7 linked regions of the Homo sapiens genome follow. The protein of the gene in region 2 purifies or fractionates together with the protein of the main gene of each other region. This does not show direct contact. Each region holds a gene or a part of one and is shown on either strand. Other genes may lie near its edges. The genes, in order: OBI1, GALNT9, IL37, ESRP2, SERPINB7, IQGAP3 and MEX3D.

The links.
Region 1: the proteins of GALNT9 (region 2) and OBI1 purify together in Homo sapiens (affinity purification with mass spectrometry; one large-scale study listed by BioGRID and IntAct). This does not show direct contact.
Region 3: the proteins of GALNT9 (region 2) and IL37 purify together in Homo sapiens (affinity purification with mass spectrometry; one large-scale study listed by BioGRID and IntAct). This does not show direct contact.
Region 4: the proteins of GALNT9 (region 2) and ESRP2 purify together in Homo sapiens (affinity purification with mass spectrometry; one large-scale study listed by BioGRID and IntAct). This does not show direct contact.
Region 5: the proteins of GALNT9 (region 2) and SERPINB7 purify together in Homo sapiens (affinity purification with mass spectrometry; one large-scale study listed by BioGRID and IntAct). This does not show direct contact.
Region 6: the proteins of GALNT9 (region 2) and IQGAP3 purify together in Homo sapiens (affinity purification with mass spectrometry; one large-scale study listed by BioGRID and IntAct). This does not show direct contact.
Region 7: the proteins of GALNT9 (region 2) and MEX3D purify together in Homo sapiens (affinity purification with mass spectrometry; one large-scale study listed by BioGRID and IntAct). This does not show direct contact.

The regions. Positions count from the first base shown.
Region 1 is NC_000013.11:78,642,156-78,645,655, forward strand, and holds part of OBI1 (ORC ubiquitin ligase 1), read right to left. Parts: intron 2,843-3,500; coding exon 2,707-2,842; intron 1,398-2,706; exon of another isoform or gene 871-1,397; intron 59-870; coding exon 1-58. UniProt on the Homo sapiens protein: E3 ubiquitin ligase essential for DNA replication origin activation during S phase.
Region 2 is NC_000012.12:132,326,790-132,331,068, reverse strand, and holds the start of GALNT9 (polypeptide N-acetylgalactosaminyltransferase 9), read left to right. Parts: upstream 1-1,479; 5' UTR 1,480-1,865; coding exon 1,866-2,103; intron 2,104-4,279. UniProt on the Homo sapiens protein: Catalyzes the initial reaction in O-linked oligosaccharide biosynthesis, the transfer of an N-acetyl-D-galactosamine residue to a serine or threonine residue on the protein receptor. Does not glycosylate apomucin or SDC3.
Region 3 is NC_000002.12:112,914,165-112,916,773, reverse strand, and holds part of IL37 (interleukin-37), read right to left. Parts: intron 1,582-2,609; coding exon of another isoform or gene 1,515-1,581; intron 1-1,514. UniProt on the Homo sapiens protein: Immune regulatory cytokine that acts as a suppressor of innate inflammatory and immune responses involved in curbing excessive inflammation.
Region 4 is NC_000016.10:68,228,533-68,230,830, forward strand, and holds the end of ESRP2 (epithelial splicing regulatory protein 2), read right to left. Parts: intron 2,023-2,298; coding exon 1,857-2,022; intron 1,784-1,856; coding exon 1,694-1,783; 3' UTR 501-1,693; downstream 1-500. UniProt on the Homo sapiens protein: mRNA splicing factor that regulates the formation of epithelial cell-specific isoforms. Specifically regulates the expression of FGFR2-IIIb, an epithelial cell-specific isoform of FGFR2.
Region 5 is NC_000018.10:63,792,418-63,795,917, reverse strand, and holds part of SERPINB7 (serpin B7), read right to left. Parts: coding exon 3,475-3,500; intron 2,758-3,474; coding exon 2,641-2,757; intron 1-2,640. UniProt on the Homo sapiens protein: Might function as an inhibitor of Lys-specific proteases. Might influence the maturation of megakaryocytes via its action as a serpin.
Region 6 is NC_000001.11:156,527,566-156,531,065, forward strand, and holds part of IQGAP3 (ras GTPase-activating-like protein IQGAP3), read right to left. Parts: intron 2,753-3,500; coding exon 2,540-2,752; intron 1,865-2,539; exon of another isoform or gene 1,765-1,864; intron 1,518-1,764; coding exon 1,351-1,517; intron 1,046-1,350; coding exon 944-1,045; intron 496-943; coding exon 387-495; intron 1-386.
Region 7 is NC_000019.10:1,554,172-1,558,325, forward strand, and holds the end of MEX3D (RNA-binding protein MEX3D), read right to left. Parts: intron 2,753-4,154; coding exon 1,392-2,752; 3' UTR 1,219-1,391; coding exon of another isoform or gene 1,160-1,218; 3' UTR 501-1,159; downstream 1-500.

The sequences.
Region 1 (3,500 bases), on a different chromosome or scaffold from region 2:
TTCCGAAGATGCTTCCTGACCGTATGGCTTAGCATAGGTTCACTTTCACTTGTTCCTCCTGTAGGGAAAAAAAAAAAAATCCTAATTTTTCATTCTGATTCGGGAAGAATGAAAATGATCCTTTTTCATATTGTTTTATATAGCTTCCCAGCTTCACATCTACCCTTCCCCTTACATACACACTTGGGGCTTACATCTAGGCCTTTTCTCTACCCTAATCTTGAGGAAAAAAAAATATATCAAATAACACCATAAGAAATACCTTCAGTAACACATCATATTGTATTTACATATCTACATATCTTATCACAGCAAACTCAGTGGAGGAAAGGGCTGTAATTATCACATTTGGACTACTTCAAATTCTGAAAACTAGACTATATTTAAATAATAAAACCAATTATTACATTTACATTTAACCAAGAGATTATATAAAAATGTATTACTGGCTGGGTGCAGTGGCTCACGCCTGTAATCCCAGCACTTTGGGAGGCCGAGGCGGGCGGATCACGAGGCCAGGAGATAGAGACCATCCTGGCTACAGTGAAACCCTGTCTCTACTAAAAATGCAAACAAACAAAATTAGCCGGGCGTGGTGGCTGGCGCCTGTAGTCCCAGCTACTCAGGAGGCTAAGGCAGGAGAATGGCATGAACCCGGGAGGCGGAGCTTGCAGTGAGCCGAGATTGCGCCACTGCACTCCAGCCTGGGCGACAAAGCGAGACTCCGTCTCAAAAAAAAAAAAAGTATTACTGCTATATACCTATGTATATAGATTAATGTGTCTTTTCACGGATTCTAACAGGCTAGTTACAATGGACTGTAAGTCATGGCATTAACTCTATGTCATGACTTGTTACAAATGCACTCACAATGAATTCTTCCTGAGAGCTCTTCACTGATGCTCTGGTTACCTTCTTTGTATTTTTTAGCATTATAATAATAGCAAAGGTATTTTACAGGTGTTCTTTTTCAGGATGTTCTATCCAAATGCAAAAATGGATGAACTATTTTCCTTGAGAGAATTTATGAAATATCACTTAGGTATGAATGAATAAAGGTAGGATATGGGATGAGAAGAAAAGCTGGGGGAAAATATTCAAATCATCAAAGCTCATATTCTGCAAGAAAAGACTTGACTCCTTGGTGAAATTCAGCAGGTAAAAAAAAACAGATAGAGGTTAACCCCGTAGCATGCAACACAGCAGAGAACCAGTCCTCTACCAGACTTCACCCAGGTACCAAGAGCCAACTCTGATTGCGCCTTCAGATCTCTTATTTCCTAAGTCCTACTAGTTCTTCTTTTGCTCTGTAGCATATATATTCCTTTCTATTTCCTTTGTAAAAATCTTGGCTGGGCACGGTGGCTCACGCCTGTAATTCCCAGCACTTTGGGAGGCCAAGGCGGGCAGATCACCTGAGGTCGGGAGTTCGAGACCAGCCTGACCAACATGGAGAAACCCCGTCTCTAATAAAAATACAAAATTAGCCGGGCGTGGTGATGCATGCATATAATCCCAGCTACTTAGGAGGCTGAGGGAGGAGAATCGCTTGAACCCAGGAGGCAGAGGTTGCGGTGAGCCGAGAACGCGCCACTGCACTCCAGCCTGGGTAACAAGAGCGAAACTCTGTCTCAAAAAAAAAAAATCTTATTTAAGTCCATTTTCCCTAACTTGGGACTATTACAATGACTTCTTAAGTTTTCTGAAAAATGTTTTCTATACTTGGCTAATTGTAGATTCACTTTCAATTTTTCCTATAGCAAAAACAAGTAGAAATCATTTTAATTTTTGCAACCTAAAATAAATAACTTATATGAGTAGAATAAAAACCAAACTCTAAAAAGGCTCTTTAGAAGTTCTCCTTTTCAAGGATCCTCTAGTTCAAGCTTTACTCCTCCCCCACCCCACCAATATTAATGTGACATAGAATTTGTTTTCACCCTTAATCCAAACTTACATTTTCTATCACCTAGGCAAAAGCCTCCTACCAGACCTACTCACATCCTGTCTACTCCTATAGTCCAACCTATGTATTACCACAAGTAATATTTGTAAAGCACATTTTGGATCATACCACTCCCTTGCTCAAAACCATCATGCCCAATTCACCCTTCTTCTTAGTCCTAGAGCAAGTCCCTGATTTAGCTGTCATTCAAGGTTCTCTGCACTAAAGTCTCAATTTACCTTTTGTCTTATCTCAGTAGTCGGACCCAAAGTAGACTACTGATCATTTCTAAAAACATGCTCTGGGTTTTCCTGTATCTAAACTTTTTAGTTCATGCTATTCTCCCTGCAGGAAATGCCCTCCTTAATTTTCACCGTTGAAATGTTATCCATCCTTAAATTTAAATGTCCAGCTTAAAGGCCACCTACTTTATGAAGCCCTTCTCGGTGTTCTTAGCTGAAGTTTCTTGCCTGAACTCTCTGGGCTTTTTTGGGGCCCTTAGCACTTGCTGCTTTTCTTTTGGTTCAGTTGCTATGAAAATGTAAGTTCCGTGAGGCTCTCAGGGTTATTCCTCTTAGCACCTCTCAGTGCCTTGTGCCCCAGTTGCTCCACATATACATTACACAAATTACTCAACCACTCAGTATTATGTTGGCCAAATAGCATCACTGAAAATAGCCTATTTCAGTCTTCCTCGAAATATAAATTATTTGGAGATTGTTTCAAACCTATTCCTATGCATATATAAAACAGGCCCTTACCTATAATTTCTTTGCAAGGATTTTCAGGAGTGATGGGGACTCTGCAAGCTGGACACTGGCTATTATTCTTCAACCACAAATCAATACAAATCGAACAAAATACATGGTTGTTGATGCATATGACAGGCTGACGTACCTTTGAAAAAAGAAATCACTTTTAGTACAGGACAACGGTCATAATTAGAAGATCAAATGGTTTAGTTTACAGCAAACTGCTTCTCTAGATTATAGCAGAGTAGGAGTTTAAGAAGGGATATCTAGCGCTTTTAAAAACACTGCTTCTGTTGGTCACTTTTCTTTTTACACATGTTTAACAGAGATACTAGATGAGATACTGGATCATGGAGACTGAAGCTTTTGACATATAAAATGCTTTATTTTGTACCTAAACCACAGAATTCATGCCAAAAAGAAAATGCTTTTTGTTCCACTAAGGCTGGGACAATTTTGCTCAAACTCTTCTATTTTAGCATTATAGAACAGCAGGATTAGGTTTTTGAAAATATCATTTAGCACAATCATCCATCTGATGCCCGAATCCTTTTCTCAATTCATTCCACTGTTACAGAATAACAGCAACTATTAAATATTGTATTGATACTTTACTAGAAATTCCCCAAAACCAAACAGTAATGAAAGCTAAAACAACCCAAAAGGCATGAGCTTCACTCTCAAGTAGTTTATAATCTAAACAGCAAACAATGCAGACAGAATTACTGAGATACACCAAATACACAAATCTTTGACTCCAGGCTCCATTTAAACAAGCACAAATAATAATACCTTACATTTAT
Region 2 (4,279 bases):
TGTGAACATGCACAGACATGAACACACATGAACACAGAGACATATATACATAGAAACATGCACATATGAACACACAAACACAGACATGCACACACAGACACACAGACACTCGTACACAGATACACAGACAAATGCACACATGGACACACAAACACAGACACATAGATGCACACAGATATAGAGACACATGCACACATGAACAAACAGAGATGAACACAGAGATATGCACACATGTGAACACACACACAGACATACATAGACACATACACAAATACACACAGGCACAGACAGACACATGCACACGCATGAACACACACAGAGACAATGCACACAGACACAGGCACATGCACACACAGATACATGCACACACGGGCACACAGACATGCACACAGAAACACGTGGACACATGCACATGCATGCGTGCTGACAACACAGACATGCACATATGCAGATACACAGGCACACAGAGGCAAATGCATGCACACTCATGCACACACACGGACACACACACAGCCAAGAGCTGTGAAGCCCCTTGCCTTACTCATCTCTGTATGGAGAGCCAAGCACAGCCATGCTCTTAATAAATGCTCCGTCATTTATTCACTCATCCCGCAAATGTTTACTGAACACCAGCTATGTGTCCAATCTCTGGGAACACAGGGGTGAACCCTGCCTTTGGGTGAAACTCCTGCCTCTTGGGTGCTTGCATTCTGCCAGTGGAAGTTGGGCCCCTGTGCTGCGCGGCTTGGCTGACATCTCCCCTGGCTTCCAGGGTCTCCTCCACAAAACGCCAGTGTGGGGCCAGATCAGAGCCTGGGCTGGGGGTGGGGGCAGCCGGGGTTTGCGGCCTCGGGTCTTACCTGCGAGCCTGGCTCAGGGACGGGGCCTTCTCCCTCCTGGTGGCTCCAGGGCCCCCTGCTGTTCCCGGAGGTCCGGCTGCATCCCAAGCCCCAACCCCCCCATACCCGTCCCGGGACTCAGCTTCCCCAGTCCTCAGCCCTGGACGGGGGAGAGGGAGGGAGGCCGGGAGCTCGGCTTGGGGAGGGGTGGGCAGGAGACTACCAGAGTGGCCCTGACCCGGGTCCTGCCCCGGCCGCCCCCTCCCCCATTCACTCCCGGCGACACCGCCCTGGCCAGGCATTCCCGGAGGCCCCGCTGCCCTCGGGTCAAGCTTGGGGTCGATTCGGACCGTGCTGGCCGTTGGGGGCCCCGGGCGTCTGGCGGGTCCTGGGGAGGGAGGGTCCGCGCCTGCCCCGCCCCCGCTCCCCGCGCCCGCGCGCCCTTGGCCCAGGCTACCCCGCGCGCCCCGCCCCCCGTCCCCCGCCCCCCGGACCTGCTGTCCTGGGGTCCCCGGGGGGGCGCGGTGGGGGGGGCGGGGCAGGCGCGCGGGGCGGTCCCGGGGGGCGGCCTTGAGGGGTGGGGGAGGCGGGGCGGGGCGGTCCTGGGGCCGCGGTTGCAGATGAGGTGAGGTGAGGCCGCGTCACTCTGCACCGGCGCGGTGGCTGCGGGGCGGGCAGGACAGGAGCCGGCACAGACACCGAGCGCCGCCCGCCCGCGCCTTCCCCGCCGCCCCCCGGCGCCCCCGGCCCCCCTCACCGCTCCCCGGGGCGGGGCCGCGCCCTCTGAGCGGGGGATGCCGGCCGCGCCCCGCGACCCCAGCCCCGGGCAGCCCTCTGCGCTCTGGGGGACCCCCGGCGGCCGTGGCCCGGCGCGCTGAGCTGGTGCTGAAGGGACAGCTCCGGCCGAGCCCCGCAGCCCCCGCAGCCCCGGGCGGCTCATGGTCCCCGAAGCCGAAGCTGAAGCCCAGGCCCGGGCGGGGATGCTGGGGATGCCCCGCGGGTGAGGCCCCCGCTGCAGCCGTGTTCATGGCGGTGGCCAGGAAGATCCGAACTTTGCTGACGGTGAACATCCTGGTGTTCGTGGGCATCGTCCTGTTCTCCGTGTACTGCCGCCTGCAGGGCCGCTCCCAGGAGCTCGTGCGCATCGTGAGCGGCGACCGCCGGGTGCGCAGCCGACACGCCAAGGTGGGCACGCTGGGGGACCGTGAGGCCATCCTGCAGCGCCTGGACCACCTGGAGGAGGTGGTCTACAACCAGCTCAACGGTGAGCGGGGGCGCCGGGGCGGAGTGGGGGCAGCCCTGCCCGGGACAGTGGCCACCCCGGGCGCGATGGGTCAGGCCGGCCTCGGGTGCGCGCCCCTCTGCGCCCCTGTGGGAGGGAATATACAGGAGAGAGGAGAGGGAAGGGCCGCGGAAGCCCCTTCAGCAGCGGGCAGCAACCTGGGTTCCCCCCGCACCGGGCACCCACCCCTCCAGTGGAGACTTGAGGAATCCCCCTGCCCCCACAATGACGCAAACTTGCTCTCCGAGGGAACTTCTGCAGAGGATCTTTGGAGCTGCTCTAGAAGCAGGCAGTGCCTAGGTCCAGGAGTGTGGGGTGGGGGGCTGGCTTGGCGCTCCAGGAGTGGGGGCCGTCAGGTTTAGGCTGCGCCGACCCCTCCACTCTTGAAGGTGGGGAAAGAGGAGGGTGGGGACGCCACACTTGGGAGGCTGCTGGTGCAGTGTCCTTTGCCCCTGAGGTTCGAAGGCACCCCAAATGCTTCGACCACTGGGCTAGGCGGCCCCCTGTCCTGGGGGTGCCCGAGGCCGCGTTAGAAAGTTGTTATGGGAGAAGCTTGAAGCTGAGACCTGAGACTCCTGGGAGGATGGAGTTGAGGATCATGCAGGGCTTGGCAGGACTCATTACCCAGGGGGGCCCAAGTTGTGGCACCTGGGAGCCCCAGAATCCATGAAAGCCTCCAGCTCCCGGTGGGTCTGTTTCATCACGAGCGGACGTAGGTCAGCCCGAGGAGCAGCACCGGCATCACCACAGGTCAGGGCCAGCGGCCACAGCTGCTGAGAGCAAGCACTTTTCCAGCTGCTCCACCTTCCCGGAGGAGCAGCCGCCCCCAAGGCCACTCTGCACCGGGGCGCCAGGAAGGAGAAAGTTTGCATGTGCCTACATCACTAGCTGGTGTGGCTTTCCGTTCCGTGCCGATGATTCAGGCTTCTGCCTTGGCAGCCCCAGCAAACCTCCTCCAGAAAGCATCCGTAACAGGCTCGAGTGGGAGGTGACGGGAGCTGGGGTTACGCGGGCAGGCGGGGGCTCCGGATGTGCCTGCTGTGTGTGGGGGCAAAGGCGGGGGGTGGTCTTGCGTTTCCTTCAGGAGCCACACCCTCTCTTGAGGGTGGGCTGCAGACAGGCCGTGGGGTGGGAGGGGGAGGTGAATCCCCATGAGGAGGGGTTGTCCCAGCTTTGTCTGACTCAGAGCACCCTGACTTCCTGAGCGCCTTCCCATCACCCACAGAATCCCTGACTTTCCCGCAGAGCTGTGCTTGGTGAGCTCTGTGGCTTCTCTGATCTTTCTGATTCAGCTGGAGCCACGAGGGGAGAAAAGTAGTTCAAGCAGCCGCCCAGCCGCCCGGCAGAGCAATTCATCTCCCGGAAGGCGGTGTGCCCGGCAATAGCACATGGCTCTATTGAAGTGTGCTCGCCATGGTGTTATGGTCTGTTTTATGGGGAGAGCCAGAGGATTACATAAAAACATTGGCAGCACACTGAGGTTGTGTAACACCACGAGGGCAGCTCGGCCCTGTGAGTCGTTTTCCCTGCCTCACCCTTCAAGGTGAGAATCGGCTGGGATTCTTGGTGGTGGAAAAAGCCAGGACCCATGATCCGCTTTGCTGACATTGGCGGGAGATAAGGAAGCATTCCGGGAAAGTGTGTCTCCCCCCACCGCCCACCGCCCCCACTGCCTTCTCCCATCCCGCTTCCTCCTGTCCTCTGTCCCCTCCCTTCTTCCTCTTCGCTTCCCTCCCCCTTCCTCCTTTCTTTCTTTTAAAATTGTTTCTCCTTCTTTCCTTCATCCTAGCTGTCCTCCCTTGTCAGCCTTTCTCCGAACGGCCCCTGCCATCTGTCTGCCTCTGTCTTTGCCCTCAACCTTTTGATGAGGCCGAGTTTCGTCCCCCTCTGTGATGAGGCTGTGCTGCGTTCCTCTCTGTGACCAGCAGGCCAGGCACAGTGTCTAAACCCAAGAGTCAGTCAATCTTTGCCCCAGGAAATGATGGGAGACACCAAAATTACTCTCACCCCCGGTGGGGCCCTACGGGGAGGGCGGTGCCGTAGAGGCCTGATGTCTGTCGCCATGAGGCCCTTTGAAACAGCATTACCCGCTCTGATGTTGGCACAGGCTCTCAGTGCTAAAAGGTGTGTAAGAAGCTCCCTGGAGGAGGCGGCCAGC
Region 3 (2,609 bases), on a different chromosome or scaffold from region 2:
TCAAATAAGTAGCACTTAGCCTGAGCAAAGAAAATGTCTGGCGTATAAAAAGGACTTTTTATAATCATTGTTTTTCTTAACTCTCTTTTTTGCACCCTCTGACTGGAGGCATCATTCCCTCAGCAGTGCCTAGAGTGGAACAGATCCCTGCACTGGCCAGGCTAAGGGAGCGGTGATGGAAGAGTTGGGAGGGTTGGAGGCAGGAAGCCCCCAGGAGCCCAGCACGGTGCAAGGCTGAGCTGGAGCTTTAGTGGCTCCTTTGAAAAGCCACAAATCTTGCACCTGGCCCTGGAGGAACAACTTCTAGCAGCAGGACCAGCCACAACAGTGCTCAGAGGGTTCTTAGGGCGTGGGCTCCTAGCAACTCATTTGGGCCAGGCCTGCCTAGAGTAGGGTCTTAAAAGGGAACGTTCCCTCCTGGCCTCTGATTGGACAGGTGACCCTCACCTCTGCAAAGAGCTCAGGCACTTGTTTGATAAAGAACAGGGGCCCCCAGGCTGGGCCAGTGACTGTCAAGAATGGGTGGGTGGCTGGAAAATGGCAAATGTGACAATATGAAAACACAGTAACCACCACACTATGTGAAGCTATAATATGGGTATCTGTGGTAGGCAATTCTAATGTAGAGAATAAGTCTAAGGTGTCATTCTTTTCCCATGCCATAAGCACATGGCCTCTGCCTGGGTTTCTCACTGTAGAATGTCCTCCTGGTCTCCTCATGCCCAAAGAGTGGGGAGGACTCCTCCTGTAACACCGGCTTTCCTGTCATCTCCCTGCAGCCCTCCTCAGCCCCCTCTGCACAGGGTAGCTTCCTCTCTGGTGCTGCAGCGCTCTGCACTCGTCAGTGGTACCTGCACACAGGTATTGGCATCCTTGGCTCGCTGCCCTATAGCACTGTAAGCTCCCCAGGAGCAGGCTTCCTATCTGACTCACCCGTGATCCTCCACCTCCCACCCTGTAGTGCCCCAAGCATCGTGGACACTCTCAGTGTCTATGGAAGAGATGACTGGCCCCAGGCAAGATCCTAAGTAACTCCCCAGTGATATGGGGTCAGATGAGATCCATGGTTATCAGCCCTGCCTTACATCAGAATCTCCTCAGGAGCTTTTCTGGGCCCATCCCAGGCAGTCTGAGTTCATGGAGCAGGTGCAGGTTGACTGAGAGTCACCGAGCTAGCTGAACTCTAAGCTTTTCCATTTCCCACACTTTAATGTGCAAGAAATCACCTGCAAACTATGGTTCAGTAGGTGTGGGTGGTGCCAAGCCTCTGTCTTTCTGATGCACTCCCAGAGCTGTGGGTGCTGCTGGTCTGAAGACACCCTTTGAGTGGCATGGCCTAAGGCTGTGACTCTCACCCCTGGTGCACACTGGGAATCACCTGGTGGGTGGCATTTTAAGACCATGGATACCTGGGCCTCACACTCCTGAGATTCTCATTCAGTTAGTCCAGGGTGAGACTGGAAAATGCTCTTTTTAAGAAGCTACTTTTCTAGCACCATCATTTTACTTTGTACCTCTTAAGCGCTTCTTAAAGCTGTTCTTTCCTTTGGTTTCTGTTTCCCTCCTATCACAGCCTGACATAGGATCTCAGCGTCTCACATGCAGACTAGTTCACTATCCTCTTAAGTGGTGTTCTCGCTCATGATCCTTGACCCCAAATCTTTCTCAAGGCCACTCTGAAGGTGTGAGTGGTCTTAAGGTGCTGGCAGTTGTTTTCTATAGGGAAGTTGTACTCCAACAGCAGCAGTAACATCAGTGCCAGCGCCAGCTTTAGGGCACTAGTAACTTTCTGTAGGGCAGTAGCTCTCAGACTTTCAAGGTGCGTCACGATAACCTGGAAGTCTTGTTAAAGCAGCCCCTAGAGCCTCAGCGCCCTGAGTTTCTGAGGCAGGAGGTCTGTGGTGGGGCCTGGGAATGTGTATTCCTAACACTTCTAGGCGCTGATGCTGCTGACGTTTGAGGACCAGACTTGGAGAACCACTTCCGCCAGATTTGAAGGAGATCCCAGCCCTGACAAGGAGAAGTCAGGACAGGCCCGACAGAGAGGCTTGTGTGCGTGGTTCCACCTGGAGTGGACACAGTGCAGATCCAAAGCCAGCAATGGTGTAACTACAACAAAACTAAAACATCAAAGGTAACTGCAGCAGCAGCGGTGGAGAAGTGACAGCAGCCTCCCCCAACTGTGCCAGGCACCCTTACACACCTGGTCCCATTTGGTCCTCTCTGCCATTGTACTAGTGAGGCTCAGTATTCCCACATGAACCTGCACTAGAGCTGGGGCTCAGGCTGAGGCCTCCTGACTCTGTCCTGAGAAGAGGAGGTGATGGGAGCCTTAAGCCTGAGTCAGGCAGACAGACGTTATAGTACCTTTAAATTTCCACATCTGTCACTTATTACCTGTGTCACCTAGGGCAGGGAATCTCCACTGTCTGTCTCGGTTTCCACACCTGAACAGTGGCAATGTTAACAGTTTCCTATTAGGGTGTTGTGGTGTTCAAATGGCAGCATGAGAGGAAGGTTCAGGCTCTGAAGGCGCCGCCCTGAGCCCTTAGTGGTGTGGGTGTCCCTGCACCCCCACTGGCCCCATGGCTGTTTGTCCTCAGTGCTGG
Region 4 (2,298 bases), on a different chromosome or scaffold from region 2:
CCTGTAGCACTAGAAATGCTTTCCTATTTAAAATAAACATTAAATTTTAAAATAGAGCTTTGTATACTATGTAAGCAGTTTTATATCAGCTTTGTAAAAGCTTTGGTGTTAAGAGTCAATATTTTTTGGCTTTGTAGATAAAGACTTAAATTTTTGTGCAACATAGTGGTGTTAAAGCACACATCCATTGGACTATGCAAATCAATTTCTACTAGCAGCACTGAGCAACTGGGCACGTGCTAGTACGCACCCCCTCCTACTCTAACTGTGCTAGCTCTTGGGTTGAGGAATGGAATGGGTAGCCTTCTGCTTACTGGAGATGCACAGAGAAACATGGCTGAAAACAGCTTTAAAAAGAACATGTCTTTGGGTTCATGTGTGGTGCTGCTGCCCGGGTGTAAACTATCCCCACCCAGGGCCAGCCATTATCACCAGACCTCTTCTGGGCCTGGCTGTGAAGCCCTGTTTTTGGTATTCAGAATGGATCTTTAAGGCTCAGATGGGCTCAAATTGAAACCTTGTGTTTTATAAAATGGATGTTTAGTAAAGGAACTGGTTCTCAGTTATGTTTACAGCACTTGGAATTGTGTGTTCTTGTACATTTTGTATTTTAAAACCTTTTATGGGAGTGCAGTGCTCCTTACACAAATACAAAGGGAAGAAGAGCCAGCAGTTGAGGCTCCTCAGTTTTAGTGCTGAAATAATAAACAGTGACAGGTCAACAGTATCCTTAATCTGTCTGAGTGTTCCTCCGCCTGGGGTTGGTGTGGAGCCCCTCACTTTGGGGCAAAGTTAAGGGTCCTGTGTCTTTTAAAAAGTCCATTTGGTCAATAACTTTTCATTTAAGGAAGAGAAGATCGAGTTCCAAATTGCTTCCGAGGCTTCAGTTCTGTACCATTTAATGCGTGCAAAGGACATTCCATGGTGTCTGCTGGGTTCAGGGCAACTGGCTTTCCCAAGGCATACAAGAAAAGTTGGCAGAAAGTCCTCCCCTTTAAAATTCAAGCCTGAAGGTTTTGTGTGGGGGCCTACTGCCCCCTAATGTCTTCTGGTGATACTGCAGCACAGTCCATCAAAATAGTTTGTGGTTTTGCCATCTGTTACTCCTTATGCCCACCTGGAGAGGGGCTAGCATCTTTAGGTGGGACCACCCCTGGCACAACATGGTCTCTGAGGTCCAGATACTCTGAGGGTAGGGGCTGGCTCTCTCTGCCTCCCTATCCCCTACAAGAGGGACAGGGAGAGGTAGAACATTGGGATCTTTACTCAGAGGCTCAGATGGACCCTTGATTCTCCCAGGAGTCATACATTGAAGGTACCAGAGCTTCCATTTTATAAAAGAAAGCAAGCCTGCCGTGGACCTGTCAGCCCCACGATATCTGTCGGCATGGGCCACAGCCAGGACAGACTTAAGGGCTCTCCAGGTGCCAGTCAAGATGCCTGGCTCAGGCCATCAGGAGCTGGTTAGCCCCATTCCACCCCCAGCCCTGCATGCAGGGTCCAGCCATTGTCTTTGGGGGAAACAGGCAGAATAAGTGGAGGATGGAGCTGGGGCTTGGGCTCCTCTAGGTACCTTCTGAGAGCTTTGACAAGCCAGAAAGAAGCTACCAGGTTGAGGGTGCTGGTCTTCTGGACTCAGGAGAGACATGTTCGCCGAGGATATCAGCTGGCTCTTACCTCCTGGCTTTCTCTCCTACAAACACACCCATTCCTTGGGGGCTTGTAACACAGTGCGAGGTGGGTCACCAACAGGCATCAGACTGGTGTAGTCATCAGCGGGTAGCTACAGAAGGGACACAGATTTAGGGCAGAGAGCTCAGCCAGACCCGCCAGGCCCTCCGGCCACACAATCTCACCTGGTAGGCCTGGAAGACGCTGAGCAGATCCTTCATACCAGCCGTGTATGGGACACCCTGCATGCGGACCAAGGCTCCTGACTGGGACAACACTGAGGTGGGAGCAGAGGCCAGGGCAGCAGTGGGTGTAGTGAGGTAGCCCACAGTGGTGGGGGAGACTGGGGGGCTAGGGTGGGAGAGACAAGGTTTAGTCATGCATGCCACCTGTGGCCTAGACCGAGACCTGTTTCCCTCCTCCCTTGTTTCTGCCTTGTGCTTAATTCAGTTCCTCCCTGAAGCCCCAGCCTCTACAGAGTCATTTTCGATCTGTTTTGTAGATGGCATTAGCCAGCTGCCACCTTACTCCCTTGTCATCTCAAGGGAGGAGTTATCTGGTCCAGAAAGGGGATCGTGACCTTTCCCCAGATTGGGACAGGGAGTGGGACTGTGATATTCTCTTAGC
Region 5 (3,500 bases), on a different chromosome or scaffold from region 2:
CTGCAAATTTTTCAAGGCTACATTATTGCACTCAAGACAAAGCCCAAGCTCTTGAAACTTGCCGACAAGACTCTGCTGATCCCCACCCTGCTTACGTCATAGCCACTTTCTCCTTACTCTGCTGTCCCACGATACTACATTCCTGACAGTTGCTCAAAAATGCCATGTTTCCTCTCTCACTAGAGGTGTTTGAACAACATTCCTTCTGCCTGAAATGGCCCATATAGCTCATGATTATGTCTTACCCATTTTCTAGTTCCAAGTATGGCTGTCTCTCCTGGACAGATATCTTCTCTAGGTTCCACCCACACTTTCTTTTCTTTTCTTTTTTTTTTTTTTTTAATTCTTTTTTTGAGACGATGTCTCACTCTTGTCCCCTTGCAGGCTGGAGTGCAATGGCGTGATGTCAGCTCACTGCAACATCTGCCTCCTGGGTTCAAGTGATTCTCCTGCCTCAGCTTCCCAAGTAGCTGGGATTACAGGTGCCTGCCACCACGCTGGGCTAATTTTTGTATTTTTAGTAGAGATGGGGTTTCACCATGTTGGTCAGGCTGGTCTCAAACTCCTGACCTCAGGTGATCCTCCCGCCTCAGCCTCCCAAAGTGCTGGGATTACAGGCATGAGCTACCACGCCTGGTCCCACCTACATTTCCTAACAGTCTGTTTATCTTGATTTCTTTTCTTAACAGCTGTTATCATAATGCATCCTTTTTACCTTTGAGATTGTCTGAGTCCTTCACAAAACAGCAAATTCTGTGAAGTCAAGACTATATATGCCTTGCTTATTATTTTATTCCCAGTACCTAACACATTGCCTTGGACATAATAGTTGCCTAAGAAATACTTGCTGTTCTTAATACAAAAAAAGTCATAATGATCTAATTTATCAACACATTAGTAATTCAATGAATATACACAAATATATTTTTGTGGAAAGATGTTCAGAATTAGAAGAGAAAGATGTATTACAAACCATGTATTGTTAGTGGATTTCCTGTTAAAGTTTATAGGATTTTCATCCTAATAATGAAGATTCACTAGTTGTCCTTTGTCTATCTGCAGGATAAGACTAGCTCTCTAATGCAAGCTTTGTGTGTGATTTCCTTGGATACAGCTCTTTTCATCTACTGATTAATTCATTCTTCCATCCACACATCCATTCATCCATCCACTTTGACACAAAGAGTATTTTTTTTTTGTTTTTTTGTTTATTTGTTTTTTGTTTTTTGAGACAGAGTCTCGCTCTTTCGCCCAGGCCGGAGTGCAGTGGCGCTATCTTGGCTCACTGCAAGCTCCGCCTCCTGGGTTCATGCCATTCTCCTGCCTCAGCCTCCCGAGTAGCTGGGACTACAGGCGCCTGCCACCGCGCCCGGCTAATTTTTTGTATTTTTAGTAGAGACAGGGTTTCACCGTGTTAGCCAGGATGGTCTTGACCTCCTGACCTTGTGATCCGCCCGCCTCGGCCTCCCAAAGTGCTGGGATTACAGGCGTGAGCCACCGCACAAAGAGTAGTTTTAAGTAGTCCATGGCCTAGGAAGGTTGAAACATGCAAGAGATTGATACATGCAAGATGTCAGCAAGGAATAAAGATAGCAGTGGGGAGGGACAGGATAGTTATATAGATGTTGCTATTCTCTACCACTTCCAAGAAACTCAGGCCAGATGTAGTGGCTCATGCCTGTAATCCCAGCACTTTGGGCGGCTGATGTGGGCAGATCACCTGAGGTCAAGAGTTTGAGACCAGCCAGGCCAACATAGCAAATCCCCGTCTCTACTAAAAATACAAAAAAAAAAAAAAAAAAAAAAATTAGCAGGATGTGGTGGCACGTGCCTGTAATCCCAGCTACTTGGGAAGCTGAGGCAGGAGAATCGCTTGAACCCGAGACGCAGAGGTTGCAGTGAGCCGAGATTGCGCCAGTGCACTCCATCCCGGGCAACAGAGCTAGACTCTGTCTAAAAGAGAGAGAGAGAGAGAAGCTCTAGAAGAGCTAGAAGCCACTAAGCATTTATACTTTTTTAAAAAGTCCAACTAGTATGTCATGTTGATCTCCTTCTAAGACTTGTCTATGTCCTTAAAAAAAATACATAAAACTTAAGTGACATAAAAAATAAAATTTGGCCAGGCAAGATGGCTCATGCCTGTAGTTGCAGCAATTTGGGAGGCTGAAGAAAGAAGATCACTTGAGCCCAGGGGTTCAAGACCAATCTGGGCAACATAGAGAGACCCTTTCTCAACAACAAAAAAATTAGCTGGGCATAGTGGCATGCACCTGTGGTCACAGCGACTCAGGAAGCTGAGGTGGGATTATTGCTTGAACCCAGAATGTGTTTCCTGCCATGGACACCCCTAAATGGGCTGACTGCTCCTCCATTCCATTTACAGCTCAGCATCCCTACCAATAGACACGTTCTCTTCTGTTTTGAAGCCTATCAGTCTAATGAACCTGAATATGTGGATTAATTGGGTAAAAAGTTGAACTTTGGAAATGGTGATGATATATTCAAGACATCTGAGAACATAATAAGTAGCAATGAGAAACAAAACCATCTTTGTATTGCTCAGTAGAAAGACACAAGCCTTTGTTCAGATAATGGATTTAACAAGATTCAGGTCCTTCTAACAAAGGCAGTTTCACTTACCTTATGAAAGCCATACACTTTTTCAGCAAAAAGCCCATTCACAATGCTGAGATCATAATCCTTGTGGGATGCATTTATATCAGAAAAAACTCTTTTCAGTTGAGACTGGAGCCCTGACTGTTATTAAAAAGATGTATAAAAATTTATTTTTGGACTGCAAAGATATGCATAATCTCACTTACACATAAAACAAAACATGCAAATTATACCATAAAAGAATTTTTTTAAATACTATAAAAATGGCAAACAAGGCCACATACATCTATGTCTTACCCTTTCTCAAAATAGTGTCTGTGATCAAATGAAATAATTTACTAAATACTTGGACTTAAAATTGTTAACAGAAGGTAATGATTTTGCATAACATATATATTAATTAATTTTACCAATGTAAGTTGTCTATGAATATACAAAGAAAAAGGCAAAACATTTAACTTCATCCTTTCTTGCCCAAATATGGCCAATATGCAAATAAAATATTACTAAAGTAATAAATAACAAGTAAATTATCAAAAATTTTACTTGAAAAATTCACAATCTGGAAATCTGAATAAAGCATGTTTCTTTGCTTTGAAAGGATAGTTCCACATTCTCCAACTTCCATCTCTTGGGTTTAAGCTAACCTCCCACCATAGCCCCCCAAGTAGCTGGGATTATAAACTAATTTTTGTATATTTTGCAGAGATGGGGTTTTGCCATGTTGCCCAGGCTGGTCTTGAACTCCTGGGCTCCAGTCATCCACCCGCCTCAGCCTTCCAAAGTTCTGGTATTACAGGCTTGAGCCCCTGCACCTGGCTCACCTTCTCTTTTTCTAAAAGAACATATTGTCTTTACCTGACTATTAGAAGAGTTTCCATATC
Region 6 (3,500 bases), on a different chromosome or scaffold from region 2:
CCTATGACTTAGCCAGCTTCTTAACCTTTTAGCCTAGAGCCTGTAAAATAGGGATAATACTTCAGAGCTGTGGAGAGGATTAAAGGAGGTAACATGTAAAGTCCCTGACATGTGATAGGGCTTCAAATATTAATCCTGCTTCTGACACCAGTAGCCCACTCCACTCTCCCTGATGCTTGCCAGTGGGGTCTGTGTCAGGGCATGGGGAAAGGGGGGCTTGGGCTGCACAGACCCCCACCCTTCTCTTCAGGAACAGACGATACTGATTGGGTGAAAAACTGAGCTGGTGTCATCTGAGGACTAGGAAAGTGAGGCCAGCTGCTCTCTTCAGGCCAGCACCTAAAGCCCAGCAGATGTCCTGCAGGCTCATGGGACTGTCCCCTCACCTGATAGTGAAGCTGAAATCGCTCCATGTCCACACCCAGGAACTTGGCATTTACTTCAAACTTTCCTGCCTCATCTCCCGGCGTGATGTCAAAGATGACGTTTCTGAAGCTGTCAGGAACAGGATTCAAAACAGGAACCCACTGCCTCTTTCCAGGGCTACAGCCACATTCTTGCACCCACTGCTCCTCATCCTGGGCAGCGGTGTCATCCAGAACCAGTTTTCCCTCTGTCACTCCCAGAGGGCCCAGCTCGCTGTCTTCTCCATTTTACTTCTGCTCCCCACACCATCTCTTTATCTGCCCCGCCCTACGCAGCTGTTCTCACCTCTGGAAAGCTTTCCCAGTACCCTCTGCCTCAGGGCATCTAGAACTGTGCTAGACCATGTCCACAGCCCTTCACTTTCTGTCTGGGCATGCTCTGTCTCCACCATCATTCTAGCAGCTCCTTCAAGATCGGGACCATGCTTCTTCTCTTCCACCCGGTGCCCAGCCCAGAGCTCCACCCCCAGGTTAGAGGACAGGAAGGGGCTGACATCCTGCCCTCCAAAGACACATACTGAGAGGCGGGAAGATCTTCAATTTCCACCAAGACACCCTTTTCCAGGAGCTGAGCAGCAGTGTAATGAAGAGAAGGCTGCTTCTTCCCCTTCCCAGAACTCCTGATTAAAAGAAGGCCCCAGAGAATTCATCCAATAAACACTTTACCACCAAAGAAACTTGTTTTCTGTGGCTGGAAAGGAAATGAGACCCCGAGGAAGACTTCTCACTGATGGAAGACAGAGGAGGGGGGCTGCACTTGAGCCCAAGACTTTGTAAATGAGGCTCAAAGACCAGACTTAGGAAGGGACTGTGCTGTGCTGGGTGAGATTCCCCTTTCAAAGCTGGGAGATAGCAGGGCAAAGGTGACATGGGCAGGGGTGAGAAGTCACTCGTAACCTTCCAAGTACGGGAAAGCAGCACCTACTTGGAGTCGGGGGCCAGGTGGTCCAGGCAGGCCCGGATGTACTGGCTGTAGTAGTCACCCTGCTCCTCATAGAAGGTGGTCTTAGTGCTCAGGCCCTGTAATGTGGCCTGCAGCTTCACCAGCTCTGCCTTCCGCCTGTGCCTGTGTCTGTGCTGGTTGCGGATGTCCTGGGGTTGGGGAACAGATGGAGGGATGAGTGGTCCTTCCTGGCAGGAGAGCCTTAGGGCCTGACACAGGCCCAAGAGCTACACACTGTGAGGCTCTTCGGAAGAACAGGCTTCAAGGCTGTTTTCCTAGAAGGAAAATCTCAAGGATGGTATTCCAAATCCTCAAGGCATGTCCTCAGGGCCTCTGCCCGTTGAGGACTAACTGGTTTCAAGGCTGTTTGTTTTTTAGTAAAAGAAAGTTGCAAGGATACTTTTGTAGGTCATAAGCTGAGGATTGGGTTTTCATGCTCTTGTGTGAGATATGCTTCTCTCAAACCTTCTGACCTGGGCACATTACCCAGCTAATGTGGGGAAGAAAAAAAAAAAGAGAGTTGCAAGAACACCTTCCTCTCTAACTAATTTCAAGATCTTTCCTTCAGGCTAGGAGTGGTGATTCACACCTGTAATCCCAGCACTTTGTGAGAGCCTAAGGTGGGCAGATTACTTGAGGTCAGGAGTTTGAGACCAGCCTGGCCAACATGGTGAAACCCTGTCTCTACTAAAAATACAAAAATTTGGCTGGGTGCAGTGGCTCACACCTGTAATCCCAGCATTTTGGGAGGCCAAGATGGGCGGACCCTGAGGTCAGGAGTTCGAAACCAGCCAGGCCAACATGGCCTGAAACCGTGTCTCTACTAAAAATACAAAAATTAGCCGGGCATGGCAGCGCGCACCTGTAATCCCAGCTACTTGGGAGGCTGAGGCAGGAGAATCACTTGAACCCAGGAGGTGAAGGTTGCAGTGAGCCAGGATCACACCACTGCTCTCCAGCCTGGATGAGAGTGAGACTGTCTCAAAAAAAAAAAAAAAAAAGAAAAAAAAATCTTTCCTTCAAAAAGGACCCTCAGCCTTCCTCTGGCTGGTGACAATTTTGGGTGAGGACTCATCAGGAGGGGCCCACCAACACTATGGATTAACATGTATATGCACGCACACACACACACGTACACACAGGCACACGGAGCCCAGGCCCAGGTTGTTACCTTGGCCAGCTCGTCCACTAGCCCCTGGTAGCCATTTCTGGCGCTGACCAACCCCAGGGCTTCAAGTCGGCGTAGGTTCCGCAGGACGCGCCGCTGCTTCTCTGCCAGTGGCAGGAGGGAGTGAGCTGTCAGTGAGCGGTGTCGTCGCAGTGGCTCCGGTGTCTGGGCTGTACAGGCCTGGCGTCGGCTCATCAGCTGCTTGTGGGCTGCTTCCTGGGGACACACAGACGCTGGAGGGGTCTACCAGGTCCTACCATTCTGCTCCCACACCAGTGAAGGTCCCATGGGCACCAGCAACAAAGGGAGGCCTGAGCATTTTTCTGCATATCATTAAGAAAGTGCCCCAGAGCCCAGCCTCTGCAGGATATGGCTGGGGCAGGGCATCGCTTATGAAGAATATCAAGGTATAACACCATAATGCATGGTGTCACACATGGGAGGGCCTCATAGATCACCACAGGGGAAGAGTGGCCCAAAGGAGAACCAAACCCAGGCCATGGCATAAAGGATTCCGGACAGACACTAGCTGTGACTTCCCAACAATGGATCTTTCTGACGGCACAGGATGTTTGGGGGCATTTACCTGTCTGTTCTGTTTTGGGACATACCTCTACTGGCCATCCCCACCTTTTCTTTGGGAAGACCCTGGTTCAGTCTTCACTCCAGCGGGCCCAACCTGCCCCTGGCCCCCCACCTGCCTACTACCTTCTCCTGCCTCCAGGCATTCTAGCAGACCACTCTTCTGAGTGCAGGCCTTCCAGGGGAGCATTCCCAGACGGTCTCTCAGTGCCCCCCATAGCCCTAGTGTTGGTGCTTGTTTCAGTGTGTGAAGTGGGGAGAGGGGTGGGGCCCCATGACTCTGTAGCCCGAGGCTTCCCAAGGCTAAAGCTGTATCCCTCATCCTGTAGGCCTCCAGAGTTCTCATTACTGGTGAGCACAGGTGTCTGCTTCTGGCTGATGT
Region 7 (4,154 bases), on a different chromosome or scaffold from region 2:
TGTGGTCTCAACCCCAGCCCTGAAGAGCTATATCTGGTGGCCCCATGTGTCTGTCATGGCTCCCAGAGCAGTGGGGGGATGACCACGGCTCAAACGTCCTTCACAGACCAGGATGCATCGGGGTCAAACCTGGGACGGGCATTTCCAGGCCTCAGTTTCCCCATCTGCACGACCGCTGGACGGTCTGTTGGGATGGATCCCACACACCCAGAGAGCTGGGCAGATGTCCCTGAGGAAGGACAGCCTGGGTCCCCTTTCTCTGTGGGATCCATGGTTGAACACCCACAGGGATGGGGAGGACCTGAGGTTTGCTCACGGGGAGCCCAGCTAGACCCTCCCCCACAGACCCAATTCCTTCGTCTGGAACAAGGGACAGTGCCTGGTCGGGGTGAGGGCCTGGACCACGGAACTGGGGGGTTGAGGGGCTGGATCCGGGTGTCCCCTGCCCCGGGGTCTCCCCTCCTGGTGCCCATCCCCCACACCACGCTGAAGCCGTGTGCTCACATGTAGAAAAGAGGCTTTATTAAGAAGGCTTTGAAGTCAAAAAATAAAACTCTTGATACAATTTTTTTAACCCTTAAATCAGCTCAGCAAATATATAATCAGTAATTTAGCTGTGTAAGATTAAAGGTCCATTACTTTATTTAAAATAAAATATATTTTAGTTCTTAAAATTTATTCCATAAAGTACATATTTCCCTATAAATTCCCTACATATACACAAGAGGTAAAAAGTAAAAGTAAAAAAAAAAAAAAATTAAAAAAATTTTAAAAATGACAACAGAAACCGCAGTAAAAAGGGGATTAATAATTAACAGAAAGTTAGAAATTTGATTGGAACGCCCCTCGCCCCCGCCCCCCTGCCCCCTCCGGCCGCGCACGGTTGATGTACAAAAGCATAAATGGTTAGCCCCAAAAAGGGAGTAAAAATGTCACCCTCCTCCTCTGGAACGTCTGTGCGGCCTGAGACCGGCCGGCGAGAAAAGTCAAATCAGAAAACGGCTTCGGACGAAAGGAAAAAACGCTGAGCGCTGGAAAAGTCGTGTTTTTTGTTTTGCTTTTTTAAAGATCACCCTGGAGGGGAGGGGTGTCTAAAAATAAGAAAACTAAAAAAAGTGCAAGCGGACCTTTTCTCTCCGGTTTATTGTAACCTGACCACTCAATACTGTCGTTGAAGGGCTGAGGCGCCGCCGGGCTGCGGGGTCTCCGTCTCCACGCCTGAGGCGGCAGTTAAAGCTCATCTGTAAACACTGGCCGCCGCCCACCCCCCTGCCCCCTCGGCCTCCGCCCCTCGCCCCCTCCCCGTCCCTCTCCCACCCCGGGTCCCGCCCCGTCTCCCGCGCCCACCCCTGGCCCCCGCAGATGGCCCCGGCCACGTGGTGGTCCGCGCTCTAGGAAAAGATATGAATGGCCTGGGTGGCCGGCGTGCGGCAGGCGGGACACTCGGGCTCGCTCTTGCCGCAGATGCGGACGGCGCAGTCCATGCAGAAGAGGTTGTGGCCGCAGGGGACCAGCGCAGCCATCACCTCGCCCTCGGCGCACACCACGCACTCTCGCGCCAGGGCCGGGGCCGAGGACGCCGAAGGGGGCTTGCGGCTGTTCTCGGAGGCGCCGGAGTCCAGGGGGGCGCAGGCGGCGGCCGCGGGGCTGCTGGGCAGCGAGGTGGCCGTGGAGAAGGCGGCGCCGCCTGGGAAGGATACGGGGCCCTGCGGGGGTCGCCAGGACAGCGCGCCCACCGGGTCCGGGGCGCCACGGCGAGACAGCGGGAGCTCCAGGCGGAGGCCGCCGGGCTCGGGCAGCGTGGGCGAGTGGCGGGGGGTCCCGGCCCCACTGCTGCGCCGGGCGCCGGCGGCGGGAGGTCCCGGGGCTCCGTTGACCGTGGAGCAGCCGCTGAAGGCGGGCAAGGGGGCGGCGCGCTCAAAAGGCGCCCAGATGGTGGCCGCGGCGGGCACGGTCAGGTCCAGCGCCAGGAAGTCGAAGTCGAAGCCGAAGTCGCAGTCGTCGGGGGCGGCCGTCCCCACCGGGGCACCGGGACCCTCCGCGCCGAAGGCGAAGCCCCCGTTGCCGGAGCCGCTGTAGGGGCTGGCGGGGCCTGGGTCCGGCACGGAGGGGCCGCCGCGGCTGCCCGCGTAGAAGGCCTCGGGGGCGCTGGGGGCGCCCAGGGCCGTGTCCCCGCGGAGGCCGGCCGTGGCCGTGGGGGGCCGTCGTCCCTGGTTGGGGGTCTTGGCCCAGAGGCTGGCGGCCGCCCCGAGCAGGTCCAGGCAGACGTCGGTGCCGTTGGCGTGGAAGTCGCTGTCGGGGCCCGCGTCGGTGAAGGCGCCAGTGCGCAGCGTGATGTGCGCCTCGATCTCCTCGCGCGCGCGGTCCACGTTCTCGGGCATCCCAGTGACCGCGAACACCGGCTCCTTGTCGCGCCCGGGCGTCACGATGTAGGTGTGCGTCCGCTGCTGGATGCGCTTGATGGTGGCGCCCTTGGGCCCCACCACCAGCCCCACCACCCGGTAGGGCACGCGCACCTGGATGGTGGTCTGTCCGGGAAGGTTGGGCGGGCCCTGGGCGGCGCCGGGCAGACCCCCGGCCTTGCTGCGCGTGGCGCGGATGATGGAGAAGTGTTCGGCCGCCGACAGGATCTCACGCTTGGCCATCTCCACGTCCTCCTTCCGGCCGGTCACGATGAAGACCGGCTCCTCGCCCCGCACTGGGGTCTTGATGTAGGTGTTTGTCTTGGCCCGCAGGGCCTTGATCTTGCAGCCTGTCCGGGAGGGAGGGGAAGGACAAGGTGACCCAGAGCCCCCTGCGCAGCTCAGCCCCGCTGGGCATGCAGGCTGCAGGGCCAGTGAGGGAGCCCCTACCTCCCAGCCTGTGCCCAACAACACTTTATCCTCAGACACGCCACGTCCCTTCTTCCCTCAGCCTCAGTTTCCCCTCTGGGCTCGAGTTTGGCCTAAAAGCAAGACGGCAAGGGGACCCTGTTTTAGGTTGAAAGGTGTGCGCCATAATTTATGTTCCCCTGGAACCGCAGTGTGACGGCTGGGGTGTGAATGTTTCCCCCAAGTTCACAAGCTGGACCCTAATATGCGGCGTTGACAGTATTAATTTAATACGTAGGGTCGGCTGGGCCCGTGGCTCACCCATGTAATCCCAGCACTTTGGGAGGCCGAGGCAGGTGGATCACTTGAGGTCAGGAGTTCCAAACCAGCCTGGCCAACATGGTGAAACCCTGTCTCTACTAAAAATACAAGCAATCATCCGGGTGTAGCGGCAGGCACCTGTAGTCCCAGGTACTTGGGAGGCTGAGGCAGGAGAATCACTTGAACCCAGGAGACGAAGGTTGCAGTGAGCCAAGATTGCACCACTGCACCCCAGCCTGGACGACAAAGCAAGACTCCAACTAAAAAAAAAAAAAAAGCGGGGTGCAGTGGCTCACCCCTGTAATCCCAGCACTTTGGGAGGCCAAGTTGGGTGGATCACGAGGTCAGGGGCTCAAGACCAGCCTGGCCAACATGGTGAAACCCTGTCTCTACTAAAATACAAAAAATTAGCCAGGCGTGGTGGCAGGCATCTGTAGTCCCAGGTACTCGGGAGGCTGAGGCGGAAGAATCGCTTGAACCTGGGAGGCAGAGACTGCAGTGAGCCGAGATCGCACACCATTGCACTCCAGCCTGGGTGACAGAGCGAGACTGTCTCAAAAAAAAAAAAAAAAAAAAAAAAAAAAAAAAAAAAAAGCCGCAATTAGCAAGGTGTGGTGGCGCACGCCTGTAATCCCAGCCACTGGGGAGGGCTGAGGCAGAACCGCCTGAACTCAGGAGGTGGAGGGTGCAGTGAGCCAACATCATGCCACTGCACTCCAGCCTAGCCACAGACCAAGACTCCATTTCAAAAAAAAAAAAAAAAAAAGAGCCACAGTGGCAGGGTCAGTGGCTCACACCCGTAATCCTAGTACTTCGGGAATCTGAGGCAGGAGGATCACTGGAGCCCAGGAGTTTGAGACCAGCCTGGGCAACACAGCAGGACCCCATCTCTACTACAAACAACAACAAAAAATTAGCCAGGTGTGGTGGTACACACCTGTAGTCTTAGCTACTCAGGAGGCTGAAGTGGGAGGATCACCTGAGCCCGGGAGGTGGAGGCTGCAGTGAGCTATGATCACACCA